Linked DNA regions of Homo sapiens. The protein of the gene in region 2 purifies or fractionates together with the protein of the main gene of each other region. This does not show direct contact. Each region holds a gene or a part of one and is shown on either strand. Other genes may lie near its edges.

Region 1 (4,022 bases), on a different chromosome or scaffold from region 2:
TGAAAAAGCTCAGAGGTCTTACAATACAAGAGACCAGGACAATGGCATATGATATGGACACACCCTTGGACTTGCTCTAAAACACTCTCCAAGTTCGTCCCCTGGGGTGGAGGAGACTTTACCAAGGATACTGCCCTTTTCTCCTGGAGTCTCCATTTCATTTCTCTAGGTCAGGAGTTATTAACCAGCTGAGTTTAAATGCAAATCATAATTTCAGATTCACACCTAGGACAGCCTAAGCTGCAGGGGTTCAAAATGTGGGCTCTGGAGTCAGACTGTCAGGGTTTGAATCATGGCCCTGCAGCTGAATTTTTACCCTTGGCAATGTGCTTAGTCTCTTTGAGCCTCAGTTTCTTCTTCTATAAATTGGCACTAATAACAGAATGACTTCTTAGATTAAGAATATATAGGTTGGGCACGGTAGCTCACGCATGTAATCCCAGCACTTTGGGAGGCCAAGGCAGGCAGATCATGAGGTCAAGAGATCAAGACCATCCTGGCCAACATGGTGAATCTCCGTCTCTCCTAAAAATACAAAAATTATTCGGGTGTGGTGGCACATGCCTGTAGTCCCAGCTACTTGGGAGGCTGAGGCAGGAGAATCGCTTGAACCCAGGAGGCGGAGGTTGCAGTGAGCTGAGATCACACCACTGCACTCCAGCCTGGCAACAGAGTGAGACTCTGTCTCAAAAAAAAAAAAAAAAAAAAAAGAATATATATTGCCTGATGAAAGTAAGTGCTGAGTGTTAGCTTACAAATACGGACAAATGAATGTTCCATAAACATTTCAGTTTCTACTTTGCTTAAGGCTAGCTGCCACAGAGGTTATATCTCAAGAATTGTGGGCTCCCAGATGTGAAACTGGCTCCCAATATTCCTAAATCGTTGCTAGATAGAAAGTTGTGTACTACTCACTGTAGCCCATTCCCTGCAAAAAGTACTTGAAGGCCTCGGTGAGCTTCCCAGGCTGGGGGGATAAAACAAGAGGGCATTAATTTTTGCATAGACAGAGAAGCAGAATTAAATGGGTGTTTAAAAAAAATTCTCCTTACCTGAACTACCTGGGGCAGTCCCCCACAGTCCGCCATCTAGAAAAGGAAAAATATGCAAGTCAGCTGGGACTTACCCTTAAGAGAATTGCTCTGAACACCCCAAGTCCTTTCAAACAGAACAAGATTGAATTCTAGGTTTTAATGTTTAACTGCAAGTTTGCATCTCAATGCACCTACGTACAAACATTTATAACCTTGGATGAAAATCTGAAATAATTATTACATACTTATTTATCAATAAGACTGAAGCCCTGACTTTCAGGCCCATGGTGGGAATTTTCTGTTGAGGTGATAGTGAAGTTAACCACTACTCTCAACCATGAAAACCACCTGAAGAAGGTTCCTTTCAGAGCCCTCGAACAGTGTGACCCTAACTTCTCTGTGCATCAAGCTTTCCAAGTCCCATTTCAACTCTACATTATCTTTCCTCCGTGAGTAAGGGCACTCTGCCATCAGGAGCTGATACTGATTCAGCCGGCTTGCTCAGTCAGCCACTTTCCTCTAATAGCTGGGTTTGGTAATGCTGCTTTTCACTTCATAAACATTTACAGCTGGTTATTCTCACGTGTGCAAGGATTTCTAGGGTATGGCTTCATTAGTGTGCCCTGGAATTACCTGAAGGACTTGTTAAAACTCAGATTCTTGGATTCCTATCCCAGAGATTCTGATTTGATAGGTTTGGGGTATGGTTCGAGATTGTGCATTTCTGGCCGCGCGCAGTGGCTCACACCTGTAATCCCAGCACCTTGGGAGGCCGAGGTCGGGGGGATCACCTGAGGTCAGGAGTTCCAGACCAGCCTGGTCAGCATGGTGAAACTCCATCTCTACTAAAAATACAAAAATTAGCCGGGCGTGGTGGCACACACCTGTAGTCCCAGCTACTCTGGAGGCTGACACAGAAGAATCACTTGAACTCATGAGGCAGAGGTTGCAGTGAGCCAAGATCATGCCACTGCACTCCAACCTGGGCGACAGAGTCCGTCTCCAGGAAAAAAAAAAAAAAAGGAACGTACATTTCTAATAAGATCTCAGGTGATTTGAATCTACTGTCCACAGAAAAGCGTTTTTAGGGCATGTTGGCCATAGGCCTGCTCTCTTTCTTCCAGCTGTTACACACTCTGGACTCAGATGGTATTCTTCAGGCTGACTGGCTTTTTTTAAAAAGGAACATGAACCCCATGGTTTCAATTCACTGGCATTAAAACTTATTATGAAGGGGGACTACTACTGAGGAGAATGCCACAGAAGACGCAGAAGTTTGAGATTAACAAGGGAGAGGCCCCTGAAAATTCTAAGCATAAGATTATAAACAAACATTTAACAAATATACAAAAAAACCAAACCAGCACAGACTGTATTTTCATGAAGTTTAGGAGCTGAAACCTGATTAGAACACAGAACAGTTCCCATATGCAGAGAGAATACTGGGAGAAACTATTTCCAAGATGGGTACCTATCAAATGGTTTGAGAATCAGTTCAATCTGCCATAGGAGTTATCCACTCTATTCTATGGTGTTGTAGATGGGCATTTTTGCGAAAAATAACTATGTCTATGGTTATTGTAGGGTTTAGTTTTATGCTTTTGTATATTGATTCAAACCTGAAATGAGAAACTAATTTGAAACTATAAACTTAAAAAAAAATTTTTTTTGAGATAAAGTCTCACTCTCGTTGCCCAGGCTGGAGTGCAATGGTGCAATCTTGGCTCACTGCAACCTCCACCTCCCAGGTTCAAGCGATTCTCCTGCCTCAGTCTCTGGAGTAGCTGGGATTACAGGTGCCCAGCATCATGCCCGGCTAATTTTTGTATTTTTAGTAGAGATGAGGTTTCATCATGTTGGGCAGGCTGGTCTTGAACTCCTGGCCTCAGCTTCCCAAAGTGCTGGGATTACAGGTGTGAGCCACCATGCCCAGCCCCTCCCCAAAATTTTTAGACCAGCCCATCAATTGCCTGGAGGGCAGAACATTTTGAATGTGGTCACCTCAGAGCATTAACTTCACATTAGATTTCTAGGAACTACAGGCGTTTGTGGTAACAGCACTTCCCTTTCAAACACACTTCAAAGGGAAAAGGAAGATGGCAGAGGTCTTTCAGACTGAAAATGTAGCAGTAAGCAACATACGATCGGCATTGAAATCTACAGTAGTCCAAGTTCCCAAGTTCAAACTAGAAGGTCAGCTACCTCAACACTTTAGTAGAGGCTCTAGGAAAAGCTAAGATGAAACAATGACAGGCAGAAACTCTTGCCTCGGTTATACTCAAAAGGGGAGACACTTGATACTAACTCTAGATATTTAGCATAAGAGTTGGTCTGTATTTGCCCTAAGAGAAAGAAAATGCATCCACCCTCATCATAAGAATTGTTACTAAAAGCTTCCTTACCAATACAGCAGGATTTTGCATATACAGAATTTACATCCATTATCTTCTCACAATATTAAATCATGTTGACGAAGTTTTTTTTTTTTTTTTTTTAGAGACAGGGTTTCACTCTGTCACCTAGGTTGGAGTGCAGCATCAGGAGCACAAATCCTCGAATTCCTGGGCTCAAGGAATCCTCTCGCCTCAGCTTCCTGAGTAGCTGGGGCTACGGATGCGCACCACCAAGCCCAGCTAATTTTCTTATTGTTTTTGTAGAGACAGAGTCTCACTATGTTTCCCAGACTGCTCTCGAACTCCTGGCCTCCCACCTCGGCCTTCCAAAGTGCTGGGATTATAGGTGTGAGCCACTGCACCCAGCCAAAGTTTTTAGTTACATGGGAAAGGCTATGTCATAAAGTTGAGGAAAACAGATACAGGGTTGTAAATACTCTTTGACAGGGTCTCATTCTGTCACCCAGGCTGGTCTCAAACTCCTGGACTCAAGTGATCCGCCCAACTCAGCCTCCCAAAGTGTTGGGATTATAGGTGTGAGCCACCGTGCCCAGCCCGTCTCTAATTTTAATGATGTAAAAATGTATAGGAAAAA
Region 2 (4,483 bases):
TTTAAGAAAATGAACATCTGGTTAAGCCACCCACTCTGTGGTACTGTGTTATGGCAGCCCCAACCAATTAATACAAGGGGGTAAAATTTTTGCATACTTGGCCGGGTGCGGTGGCTCACACCTGTAATCCCAGCACTTTGGGAGGCCAAGGCGGGTGGATCACGAGGTCAGGAGATCGAGACCATCCTGACTAACACAGTGAAACCCCATCTCTACTAAAAATACAAAAAAAATTAGCTGGGCATGGTGGCGGGCACCTGTAGTCCCAGCTACTCGGGAGGCTGAGGCAGGAGAATGGCGTGATCCTGGGAGGCGGAGCTTGCTGAGATTGAGCCACTGCACCCCAGCCTGGGCAACAGAGCAAGACTCCATCTCAAAAAAAAAAAAATTGCATACTTCTGAAAGTAACACTTGTACATCTAGTAACAAAAAGGATAAGGAACATCTCATCCTCTTAACATAGACATGGAAAGATGCTGTCTTTTGAATAGACAGTCAAGTAAAAGTTGCAAGTTGCCAAAAATATGTATGATACAGTTCTATTTTTGTCTTTTCGGGGGTGGTAGTGGAAGATGTTGATACTGGCTTTATAGTTTTTGTATTTCCAATTAAATTGTAACAAGCAATTTAAAATCTGTTTTAAAAGTAGAGAGTTATGAAAAGCAGAAACAACAGGTGACATAAACAATATCAGAGTTAACAATGAAGAAGAATAAGGATTCCAATACAAAATTATAATGGGAATTAGTCTTCAGTATTGTACAAATTCTGTTTAAAAGTCCCATACTTCTAAGACTACCCCCAAATCATAAATCCCTAAGGGAAAATCCCCTACCTACCTGGGTGGGTAAAAGGCCATGGGCCATCAATGAAGCCAATATAAGCGGAGAGGCCTATAGAGAGGACTCCATGGGTGAAGGTGACCAGGCGGCAGCTCCACTCATAGCTTCGGTGCTTATTCAGGTGGCAGAAAGAAATATAGAGCGAGAGCCAGCCACACAGGCTGCACAGCACCTGCAGACACAGAGCTAATGCCATCCTGTGATGAAAAGACCAAAACCAGAAAAACAAAGGATGCACCCTAAGAAAACAGCACTGGGTCATTTTGTGTATATATCCTCATTTCTATTATAGAATAGTTCAAAAATATTGCCTTATCTTATTTTCCTTATCTACACGGCCAAGAATCTTCTATTTAAGTATGGCTGTATTTATCATTCCAAGTTCCTCAGAGATAACATGTTAGCAACTGGTCAATGTTGTAAACTGGAAACCAGGAACTGCACTCCGAGCTGGTAGGCTGACATCACATTTTATGATGAGTAAATGTCAATAATAACCCTCTAGCGATGACTGACCTTGGGCAATAATACACAGAAAATAAAGCACATGTATTAAATAATGTCTTCACAGTTCAAAAACCCCAATGAAACGCACTCATGAAAAAACAGAACACTGCCACGTTGGTTTCTGCTAGAGGTCACATGACACATGGCAGTTTAATGTGGTTTTAAGCTGATACTAAATTCAGCTGAGGTTTGGATTTGGGTCACAGGTTCATCAGTCAAAAACAAAACTTGGGATAAACTTAAATACAGAACTAAACAAAGAGTCCAGACATCTTGGAGGTTGGGGGGAAATCCTGGCTTTATTCAGTTCTGAAATCCGACCCAAAGATTTGCCAAGAGTGAAGCAGAAGGATTCTAAGGTTCAAGAGGAGGGGAGTTTTTGTTGAGATCTAAAAATATCCTTAAGGCAATTATTCAGTTAAAAATGAAATGAAGCCAGAAAGCTGTACCTTGGAACTTTTACTGGTGACAAATACGTTAGGACAAGAACAACTATAACTGAGTCAATTTAGTCACACAGGACTAAAATCTAAATGAGCAAGATGTTGTTATTAGTTAGTATTCATTAGCTCCTCCATTGAAACGTACAAATAAAAAGTCAAAAACATATCAGATATCTACTTCATCTCAGCAGACATTTTCTGCATGGCTATGCTTATTGCTTAACCTTATTCTGACCAGTGAAATAGTTATCTGTGGACGTCAATACACAAGCCACTTCCCAAGAATGCTATCCAGAGAGGGCTTCATGAAGGTCAAGTTCTGTACAGCTTTCATCTGAAATCAGATTTCCATTCAAGAAAACCGTAGGTGTCCATAATAGACCTGGGTTCCAATTCTGTCTCTGTCCCTAGAGAGACTAGCCATAAGAGTGTGGGCAAATCACTTTAACCTCTAGAACCACAGTTAAAAAAAAAAAGAAGAAATTAAAGAAAAGAAAAGAAGGAAGAGGAAGGGGAGGAAGGGAAAGGAAAGAAAGAGACTAGGACTGAAGAACTCTACAGTCCGGTCCAGTTCTGACATGGAGTTCTGAGATAAACTTTGTAAAACATCAAGGCCAATTCTCAGAGTAAGGGCCAGAAATACAAAGTATCCCAGGTGAAGAGAACTGCCCTCCCTTATCTCCTTCTAAAGGCCAGGGTCACTGGCCAGTAATGCGGATCAGCTCATTTGGATATGCCTATTAGTATTTTTAGAGTCTTCTTCTCTGAATCCTAATTCCTTGGCAGAACAGAGAAAACAGTAGCCCATTTACAAACACTTAAATAAAAGAACAGACATTCGTAAATGGCAGACACAACTCTGTGACCTTGGGAACTCCCTGTGTGGGTTTCGGCTTTTTGCTCTTGGTTTTTGCCAAAGAACGGAAGGGCATTTGGAAGGCCATCGCGGCTCAGAGGTCCAAGGCTCCTCTCCTGGTTTCTCCCGTTCCAGGGCCAGACTGGCGAGGAGGAGCCTTGGAGCAGGCGTGGCTGGCGGCGAGCGCGGGCCCCGGGGCCTCGCAGGGACGGCGATCGCATCTCCGCGCGGCGGTGCCTGCGACGCTCGGCCACGCCCGGACCAAGAGCCGGAGCCAGGCACCGTTATCCCCGCATCCCGCTGGCGCCGCAGCCTGGCGCAGGAAGGCCTCGGGCGTCCGAGGCAGGAGGAGGCCCGCTCCCCTTCGGAGGCGAGCCCGGGCCCTCTGCCGCCTCCTTCCCCACCAATGGGCCGCGCGGGCCCCGTGCCCACCCCGGCCGGGCAGTTCGCGCCGAGCGGTTACCTGGCGGAGCGCACCGGGAAGCCTCGGGCGCCCGGGCGCCCGCAGCTCCCGGCCCGGATCGCGGCAACAGGAAGCGGAGGAGCCAGAGGCGGAGGACGAGGCTGTGACGGCGGCGGAGGAGGAGCCGGGGGTCTGGGGGCACCTGCTGGCTGGGAGGATGGAGCGCAGAGCCGGAGCCGGGCCACCGACGCTCCGAAAGGGCGCGGGAGGGTCCTCCTTCTCTGGCGGGGGGGTCAAGAGGGATCTAGCGGTGACGTGAGACCTGGAGGCCGCTGCTCTTGTTTAGCTGTTGTTGTTTGTTTAAATCATTATCCACTTCTCCCCTCCCCTCAATGGGACAGCTCATCCAATCAATTTATCGAGTACCTACTAAGTACTTGCACCCTTACTAGGCATTGTGGGGGATGTAAGACATCGTTCTTGCCCTCGTGCTTGAATTTAAGTCGTGAAACAGGAATTGATGAGCAGGAAAGTGCTCAGGCCTGAGAATTAGAAGTTACAGTATTCCAGTCAGCCCTGTAACCAACTTGACAGTAAAGCATAAGGCTTGAAAGTGAACCTTGCTTGGTACCTCTTTGGGCAAGTTACTTTTCTGTTGCCTCCCTTTCCTCGATCCTGAGGATGGGGATAGTAATAACACCTATCTCATATGGTTATTTTGAGAATTTTAAAATATTACATGTGTAAAGTGCTTTGAACAATGACTGGCACATGGAAGTCACTACATAAATACCAACTGTTTTATTTCACTTTGGGTAAATCCTTTTCTTCTCTGGTTCTATTTTAATACCAAGCAGAGTAAGTTTGAGCGATAAGAATGGAGGCTCGAATGGGGTAAAGACGGTGTCTGTCTTGATTGATCAGGACAGGCAATCCCGGGTGCTGAGGAACCTAGACATTCTCAAAGGAGAAGACCGTTAGCAGAGGTGTGAGTGTTTAGGCCGTGCCTGGGGAATAGTAAATATTCTAGTTTTGGTCATTTATCTTACCAACTCTTCAAAGGTAAGGATGGCACTGGTTTCATCTTTGTTTCCCTAGTACCTAGCATGAGGCAGGTACAATAAATGTTTGTATGTTGAATTAATGTGAAATGAGCCTGGGAAACTATCTTGGAAGCATATCACAGTTCCTAAAGTGTGTTGATCAACTATGCCACTTGGGAAGTGTTTTCAAATACCCTGTGCAGGCTGTACCTTGAATATTATGATTTATTAGGTCTGGTATGGGGTCCAGGGATCTGTATTTTTTAAAACCTGCCCAGGAGTCATTCAGACGATCACATTTGATAACCATTGCTGTTAGAGTCCTTAAATGCCTCTGATGCCAGCCTAAGATGCCAGGCTGAGAGAGCTTATTATGTGGAAGCTCATGA
Region 3 (4,312 bases), on a different chromosome or scaffold from region 2:
CCTGGTGGTGCCAGAGTCAGAGGCAGCTGCTCCCAAGGATGTGCTGGGGGCTGGGTGGGGTCTTTCTTTGTGGTCAGCAGAAAACCAAACATGGGGCCTTCCCATGCCCTTGGTGGCCAGGCCACATCAGCTCTGCAGGAGATAAGGCTCCGGCAGCGAGGCACTCCCAGCAGGCCACACGCCCTGGCCTGGGAGTAGAAACCCACAGCATTCTCAGAAACAGCTCCAGAAAGTTTCAGCCCGTGAGGGGCAGTGCGGCGGCCCGGGAGGGAAGAGCTGACTGGGAGGGTCATGCTGGGCTGTGCCATGGTCAGCCGCCCGGATGATGGCGCTTACATTCTGCCCCCAGTTCCTCTCCATTTCTCAGCCCTCGACCCGTGACCAGCAAAGCACAGGACAATGTGGGCCAGGCCCCAGCAGCCAGTGGGGGCGGGTTGGGCTGCTGTGAGGCAAGTTAATGCACCTGACTGGAGCAGAGGAAACCAGTTCTTTGGTATTGAAGCAACAAAAAGCTATCACGGAAGAGCCACATCTCCTAAGCAAAGGTGGGGGCGTCAAGCTGTATCCTTCCCAGTAGCCCTGGGAGTCCCAGGGGAAGAAAGGACCAGGGATTACCCCTCCAGGCAGGGTTCCTTCCCATCCTGTTAGGCCAGCCCTGCTCAGCCACCACGGGGCACATCAGGGGGCGGCCAGGGTGAGGATGGGAAGGGCCCACCTCCTCCAGGTGAGAAGCTGGGCTGCCCAACCTCTGACCTCTGCAGCGAGCCCTGAATGCAGGGCCAGCAGCAGGACCCCGAGAGCAGCATGGGGGACACACCTCAGACTCTCACCCAGCCAGGCGCCCAAGCACTGACCCAAGCTTTCCACACAGCCTGGGGACGCTGGGCCCTCAAGGCTGAATCTACAGTAAATAGACTCTTTCTCACTAAAATTGTGTAACTTATCCAAGAGCCTGCAAGGAGTTTAATCTTTTTCCTGGGAAGAGACAATTTCACCCTGCTTTCGGAAAATGCCTGCTGAGCCCTGGTGGCTGAGTCCTGTCTCCCTGGGAGCGGCCGGTTGGCCAGGGCAGCCCCGACCCTACCTGGATCTTCCTGCCCAAGCCTCAGTCTCAAGACCCCATGACAGAGTGTAGGGGGAGGCAGTGTCTCTGAGTCTTTCCTCGGGGGACGTGTGCGGGCACACAGATGGGGGCGGGGCAGGCTCTGACCCCCAGGCCAAACCAAAGCCCCCACGCTGTCCATTCACAGCCATGCCTTCCCCTCGAACAAAACAGAAAGTACGAAACAAGGCTGCCTTTTAATTGCTATCAGATATTCGGATATCCCGTCTGATGTCAGCAAGGCCCCCGCGCCCCGCCGGAACCCGCAGGGATGGAGCAGCACCGCCGCCTGACTGCACAGAAGGGCTGGGGCAGGGTCGCTGTGCCTCTCGGCCTCCTTGCTGCCACCGTCTCTGAGCCTCGGGGCGCCTGGTGCACCGTCTCCTCTTCGGGTCAGCCCAGCCTCTGGCGGCCCTCGGAAGGAGGGGAGGCAGGGGTCGGGGGGGTGAGCCGGAGGCGGGGGCCCCGTCGCGCACGCATGCAGACTTGCCCTGTGTTGGCTTCGTTTGTTCTCCTCCTTTGCTAAAGTGATCAGATAGTCCTGTGAAGCAGCTGCCAGCCAGGTGGACAGGGCAGCGGTGCTGGGATGCCGCCCGTGGGCTCCTCGGACATCCTGAGGCCCCGCCCTACTTCTGTATCTGGAACAGGAAGAGCCGCAGGTTGATGTTCTTGGCAGCCAGCAGCTTGTTGCACTCCACGGAGTCAATGATGGGCAGTGGCACGTAGTCCGTCTCGTTGCTCTCGTTGGTGAAGACAAAGTGGTAGATGACGGGGCTGATCCTCACGTCGTCGTAGGGGCCCTTGAGCAGCAGGAAGGAGCACTCCAGCGGTGCCGTGACCTTGCTCTTGAGGAGGAGCTGGAAGGAGAGCGTACGCTTGCAGGACAGGTTGGGGTTACGCTCCGAGTCGTTGACTCGAGCCTTCAGGACCCACGTCTGGTTCAGCACTGTGAACCTGGGCGTCTCATAGTACAGGCGCGTGATGAAGTCGTCTGTGCGGTACGGCCGGAACTGGACCTCTGTGGAGACAGACAGGGCCGGAAAGAGCCGGCTGTTAGTGTGGGCAGGGCTGGGCAGCAACGCCTTCCCTGACCAGGCCGAGGGCAGGCTCAGCCGGGGAGGAAGGCAACTTACCCGGACACCGGGCTCTGCTTGTCACAAGCAAGCCAAACGCAACTATGGCAAATGGAGGTGCACACAAGCTTTGAGGGGAACAACCACAAACAGAATCAACATGGATTAGCTGGAGAGTCCAGAGGCTGCACGTGTCAGGCCACACCCCAGGCGTGCCCGACCCACGCTGGCCTCCCTCACCGCCCCGAGCCCCGGGTGTCCCCCAGGGCGGGGTAAGCAGACACACAGACAGGATGCGGTTCCGAGAACAAGTGCACTTTATTGGTTCTGATACAGAGGAGCTGCCAGAAAAGCCAGCAGGCGGCTGCGGCACCCAGCCCTGCCCGAGGGGAGCACCAGGTCTGCAGGCACCGGGCCTGATCCGGAGCTGCCAATCAGCAGGCAGCCCTGCCTGCACAGTCCTCTTGGGCAGCCCACAGCCTGTGGCCGGCAAGTCCCTCCGTGGAGGCGTGGGTTCCCAGGTGGCCAGTCTTTCCTGCGCGAATGGGGCTTCTCACCTGGCCACGGCCACAGCCACAGTGCCCCAGCCTGCCTAGACTCCACGAGGCCCCGGTATCTCCAGGACAGCTAAGGCTGCTACTCACCACGGGCTGTGGCTGCCGCAGAGACCCCAGGCCCTCGGCCTCTCTGGCCTGCTCGGGCCCACATCCCGCTGGGCACAGTCCAGGCAGCAGGGCGGGACTGGCTGCCCACGACCACCCTGCTTGCGCCACGCCTGGTGCTCTGAGCTGGCCGCCTGGTGTGGGCTGAGAGTAGAGGGATGGAGCTTCCTCCAGTGGCCCCAGCATCAACAGGTGCTTCTCGCTGTCCTCTGGGCCAGGCTCTGGCCTGGCTCCTGCTCCCCGACACGTTCAAAGGCGGTGGCAGCGGCCCAGAGAGCCACGAGATCCAGTGTGCCTGCGCACGCATCCAGCCTGGGCGTCTGTGGGTGTCCACTCCCGGTTCTACAGTTTGAGTCGGGCACCCTCAGCTTGTTGTGGAGCCCTCTCCCTGAATGGCTTCGTGCCAGCCTTGAGAGGCCCATGGCCGGGGCAGTGACTGCCTGCAGGTAGGACCTCACTCGGCAGGGTGCTCTTCTTGCCCCAGGGTCCGAGGGGCAGGCCCCTAGCTCCCAGGCCCCCTGAGACCTGCCCACTTTCTGGTTAGACCCTGACTGTCTTGAGGCTCTGGAGCCCCACAGTGAGATGCCACCTTGCAGGGATGGTGAAGCCAGGGTGGCGAGGACAGGTGGGCGGGGCTGCTGTGAGAGCCACACAGGTGTGCACCTGGGGTCTGCCTCGGCCCCTCCTTCCACTCAGTCTCCGGCCTGTCTTCTCGACCGAGGTGTCCACCTGTCCACCGGGAGCTTGTCCAGAGCCCGGCTGTCCGGCGCTGTCAGTGCCCAGTGCCCAGAGCCTGCTGCCCCCAGACTCCTGGCTGCCAGCCCCCCAACCCACACCTGTGTGGCATGCAGCAGGCGGCGGGGCGCCTCACCTGTGTAGCCAATCTTCTCGAAGCTGAGCAGGCTGAAGATGCTGTTGTACAGCTGCATCTCCTTGCGGTGGCTCTGGTCCATCCCATCCAGGATCTCCATCAGCTCACTGCCTGTCTTGGTCGGGTGGGCGCACGCAGCCTCGTGCACCGTCAGCTCATGGAAGGGGCCGTGCCATGGGCAGCCGATGCGTTTGTACTTGCACTGGGTTACCCTGGGGGAGGCAGGTACATCACTCACAGACTGAGCCCCGAACAGGAGGCTGCAACAAGCTGTCCTCCCATATGGCTTCCATCCAGCTAAGAACCCCTTCCTGCAGGACACACGTAACTGTGAGCCCACCCCCCAGGATGAGGTCAGAGTGGCAGCATGTGGAGAGAAAGGAGACAGGCAGAAAAAGGGAGAGAGAGGGGAAGGAAGAGTGCAAGCTTGAGCCTGTGTGCCCCGCACCATGGCGTGGTTCTCTCCTCTGTTTGGCAGTGGTGGTCCTGCACAGCCTCACTGCAGGAGACTTGGTGGCTGCCTCCACTGGATGGGTAGCCATGGGCAGTGTACCCTCACACCAAGCTCCCTGAGGTCCTGCGTTGGACACGCTGTCCTGGGCCC
Region 4 (4,022 bases), on a different chromosome or scaffold from region 2:
ATTCAAGGTTGCCCACAGTGAGTACTGCCTAGAACATGGAAGGAATATGAAGGGTGCTCCATGCCTAAAAGCCAGAAGCCAAGAAGCACAAGGGGCTCTAACAGATTGGTTGAGGTACGGCAGTGAAATAACCAGGAAAGACAACCCCTGCTCATGCCCCTTCTCTCATTTGAGACCAGATAGCTGAGAAAGGAGTAATGTTTCCAGGTGGAAACAATGATTGGGACAGAGGGATAGGGTATTATTTCTAGGCACTAGTAGCATTCAGGAAAAAAATAGAGAATACATAATCCAGAAGACCATCCATAAATGGATCCCAAACAGCATCATCCCATGTTGCTATACCATACTCTGAAAATATTATCAAGCACAGCAGTAGCAATTACATCCTCCCTTCAGCATGGGTGAGCTGGGTCAGCAGAGAATGCAGACCAGCTGGCAGAGAGTCTCACACAAAAATGAGCTCACTATCAGCAATCCAGCTGAACACTGGAGAATGCAAATTAAAAAATGAACAAAAAATTTGCAAAGGAGAGTCCACAGAACAAACAAAAAAGCAGCGTTAAATATAATTATTATCCTTGGAAAGATAAAGAAAAGCAGAACCATGAAATGAAAGAACTGTTATAAAAATCCAACATATTTTAAAAATATTTTAAAATTATGTACATATTTGTATATAGTAAATATGTTTAAAGTACATATTTTTAATAGAAAGAAATTGTTGAAACATTTATTAGAAGGACTGAATAAGCAACTCAATTACAAGTTTTAGAGAAATACATTAAACAGAGAAATTATCCCAGAACTTAGAATGAAGAAATGAAAAGTATAAAAGAAATGTTAAGAGACAAATGAATCCAACTGGAAGTTTCATCGTCTTAAAGTTCCATAAGAAGAGAATAGAAAGAATGGTAGAAAGTCAATATTTAAAGTAGGAGCTGAGAATTCCTAGAATTAAAAATACACATAAGTTGATAAGGCAAAAAAGCCTATCATCTACTAAGGAAGATAAGTAAGTTAAACAAACATCTGCACACATGTACATATATCTCTTCAGAGGGAACAGTACAATTTCTGAAATATTAACGTAGAAAAATAACAAATGCAACTAGAAAAAAATATTATTAATCAAAGGATTAAGAAGCAGAATAATATAATACTTCTATCAGCATTAGTGGGTGTAAGAGAACAGTGAAGCAGTATCTTCAAAGGCCTAGAATTTTGTGCCTAGAATTTTATATCTAGCTAAACTAACCTGCATTTAACATGACAATCAGAGGACATTTTTGGATATGCAAGCACTCAAAGTTTGCACCAAAGTTTACCAACATGGGTGTACTGCAGCAAGGAAAAAACAAACTATTCACGACAGCAGTGATATCTAAGAAACATTGTTGGGAAAATTTTTACAATTTTTTTGTTTCCCAAATAAGAAATGAGCAAGGAAAAAGTTATTTACTAACAATCTAAGAAGTTAAAGGAAAAATAACATGAGAGGTGGCGAGTGGGAATCTGAGAAAAGTAAAAATATCTTAAGCTTCTTAACTTGGCAACAAAGGGACTTAGAAACTAGAAACTGATTTTTTTTTCTAACTGCTTCTAAAATTAATAAGTTTTAAAATTTAAAATAATTAGAAGAGCAAACTGGTAGAGGGAAAAATAAAGTATATGTATACACAGACATAGCAGAAGGCATAGGAGGGCTGTAGAACTACTCATGCAGGTCTAAATGCCCTGTCTACTTGTTCCTCTATAGCTCGAGCATTGCCTCCATCTAGACCATTCTTAAAAACCTCACATCTCTCCTTCTCCCCACCCATGATCCCACCATATACTGAACAAATTTATACTACAGTATCTATAATACTTCATTATGTTTGTTGTTTACAAACCAATCTTGCTCATTAGGCATAAACTCTTAAGGACTAGAATAGCCTCCTTCTCATTTCTACATCCCTTCCTATATCACAGTTACTCAATGTTTGTTGAGTGGATGAAAATAGAGGCAATTTTTACATACTTAAAACAACTAGAGAATTGATTGTACATGACCAAGGTTATAACTTATAATAAATTATTTGTTGCAAGAGGCTAAAAACCATGTCTAAGTTACTACTGCATTTCTGACAAAGTCATTCTTGGATATTTTTGTTAAGTTTAGAAATCAACTGAAATCAGGATGTAGGAGGATGTACTAGACAATATTAAGGTGTCTTCCATCTCCAAACTCAAAGTTTAGAGAATAACTTTAAGAGACACTTTGACTGATAGTCCCTGAAATCGTACAACACCTGCAGAAGCTCTATGTCTTCATGGTTTTCAGACCCAGGAGTATTCTCCATCAATATGGCGGACATCACTCGCACATTCATTTTCACCATATCCAATTCACTGTGCAGTTTTCCAATCTGTAGAGAGCAACACAATCACCAGTCAGTGCGACACACAAAGAATAACTACCTTGTTTCCTGCCCCCATGGGACATTTGCTGGATGAAAAAATGCTTTTGCAAAATTTAATATTTTCAAACTTAAATTTAATTTCATATAAATATACATATAGTTATTTTACAAATGTATACCTTGTCACCTTCTAAAAGGACTTGAGATCTCTTGTAATAAACCCCAAAATATGCTTTAGGAATTTTAAAAATGAAAGGAAAAAAAAAGATTAGAACCCAATATGGAGAGGGGAGAAGTACCAGGTACCTAGCAGAAGAAGGTACCAGAAACCTGGATAAAATGGCAAAAGTTATCCTGAGTTTCTTGGCAACCAATAGGGTAAAAGAAAAACAAATGAGGGTTATCCAGTTCTCATGGTATTAAAGAAGAAGGAATAAAGAAACACCTTTTCTTCCTGTATTAAATTCTAAGAGGAATTAGTCACATGCATTTTTATATAAGAAAAAAATAATACAACAAAATCTTCAATTATAGTTCCTTTACAGCAGAACGGAAATTAGCCTCATATAATAATTGTTTATCGGTACCTTGGATAAACTGATATACACAAAGAAGTAAATACAATTCAGTTGGCATAATAAATACAAGTAATAAGACTACCATTTACTAAACTCTCTGAAATATGTGACAGTCCTACCAGAAGTAACAGGAATTAGCTGATGGACCCTAGATCCAGTCCACAGTCAAGGCTCCAGAAAGCCATGAAAGCCGCTAGGCAAGCACAACTCTTACAAAGTTGGGCTTTGGAAGCAGACAGAACCCATGGGATTACTCCTTCTTGGAACTGAACTATGGTAAGTCACATAGTATTACTAAGCCTCAGTCTCTTCCTCTGTGAAATGAGTGTACCTACATCTCAATGTTGTTAACCAGAAAAGACAAACTGTATATAAGGTGCTTACAAATCAGGAAAAGACATCAATTAAATGCAATGATTGTTGTTGTTACCTGTTCTGGGACCAATGTAACAGTCGAGTTCTTTGGAGCAATTACAGAAGAAAGAGCTGGTGCAGTAGGGACAGATGTTGGAGGATTTGATGAGATTTGAGCAGTCTATGAGTATGAAACATGGTAATATTATTATGTGAATTAACATAGCCACCCAACGCCAAGTTTTTTCCATTCAGCTAACTCAAGCACTCTCAAAGTCCTGTGTACAGGGTATCTGCCCAGAGTAAATCATCAGCTACACAACCCGTCCAGCATTTTGTGAAGAATGCTAAGCAAATGACATGCCCATAATAAAGCAGGTATTCAACAAAAGGTGGCTATTAGGATTATCATTTACAATTTAATAAAATGCCCTTTTTTTTTTTTTTTTAACCAAGGGTCTAAGTGATAAACTGCCATGTGAGATTATTGATGCCTTCTCTTTGGGTTGTTAATAACAAATGGTAGCTCAATTCATGTCAAGTCCTTTTAAGCCACAGCTGACAAGGCATCTCCTTCTCCATCAATGACCCTCCTTGGGTCAATGCCACATCTCCAACCTTGGGTGGAGAGGTGAAAGCTCAAGGCTCTAGGCCAGTGCTTCTCAACATTAATGTGCAGAGAAAA

Evidence for each region.
Region 1: the proteins of TLCD5 (region 2) and NDRG3 purify together in Homo sapiens (affinity purification with mass spectrometry; one large-scale study listed by BioGRID and IntAct). This does not show direct contact.
Region 3: the proteins of TLCD5 (region 2) and ZFTRAF1 purify together in Homo sapiens (affinity purification with mass spectrometry; one large-scale study listed by BioGRID and IntAct). This does not show direct contact.
Region 4: the proteins of TLCD5 (region 2) and TOM1L1 purify together in Homo sapiens (affinity purification with mass spectrometry; one large-scale study listed by BioGRID and IntAct). This does not show direct contact.

What each region holds. Positions count from the first base shown.
Region 1 is NC_000020.11:36,655,445-36,659,466, forward strand, and holds part of NDRG3 (protein NDRG3), read right to left. Parts: intron 1,089-4,022; coding exon 1,053-1,088; intron 968-1,052; coding exon 916-967; intron 1-915.
Region 2 is NC_000011.10:120,323,997-120,328,479, reverse strand, and holds the start of TLCD5 (TLC domain-containing protein 5), read right to left. Parts: upstream 3,182-4,483; 5' UTR 3,112-3,181; intron 1,359-3,111; exon of another isoform or gene 1,105-1,358; coding exon of another isoform or gene 1,039-1,104; coding exon 840-1,038; intron 1-839.
Region 3 is NC_000008.11:144,448,651-144,452,962, forward strand, and holds the end of ZFTRAF1 (zinc finger TRAF-type-containing protein 1), read right to left. Parts: intron 3,921-4,312; coding exon 3,709-3,920; coding exon of another isoform or gene 3,530-3,708; exon of another isoform or gene 2,475-3,529; intron 2,121-2,474; coding exon 1,729-2,120; 3' UTR 932-1,728; downstream 1-931. Other genes in the region: TMEM276-ZFTRAF1 (uncharacterized protein LOC157542 isoform 1 precursor), read right to left, coding at 1,729-2,120, 3,709-3,920.
Region 4 is NC_000017.11:54,914,135-54,918,156, reverse strand, and holds part of TOM1L1 (TOM1-like protein 1), read right to left. Parts: intron 3,519-4,022; coding exon 3,414-3,518; intron 2,412-3,413; coding exon 2,295-2,411; intron 1-2,294. UniProt on the Homo sapiens protein: Probable adapter protein involved in signaling pathways. Interacts with the SH2 and SH3 domains of various signaling proteins when it is phosphorylated. May promote FYN activation, possibly by disrupting intramolecular SH3-dependent interactions.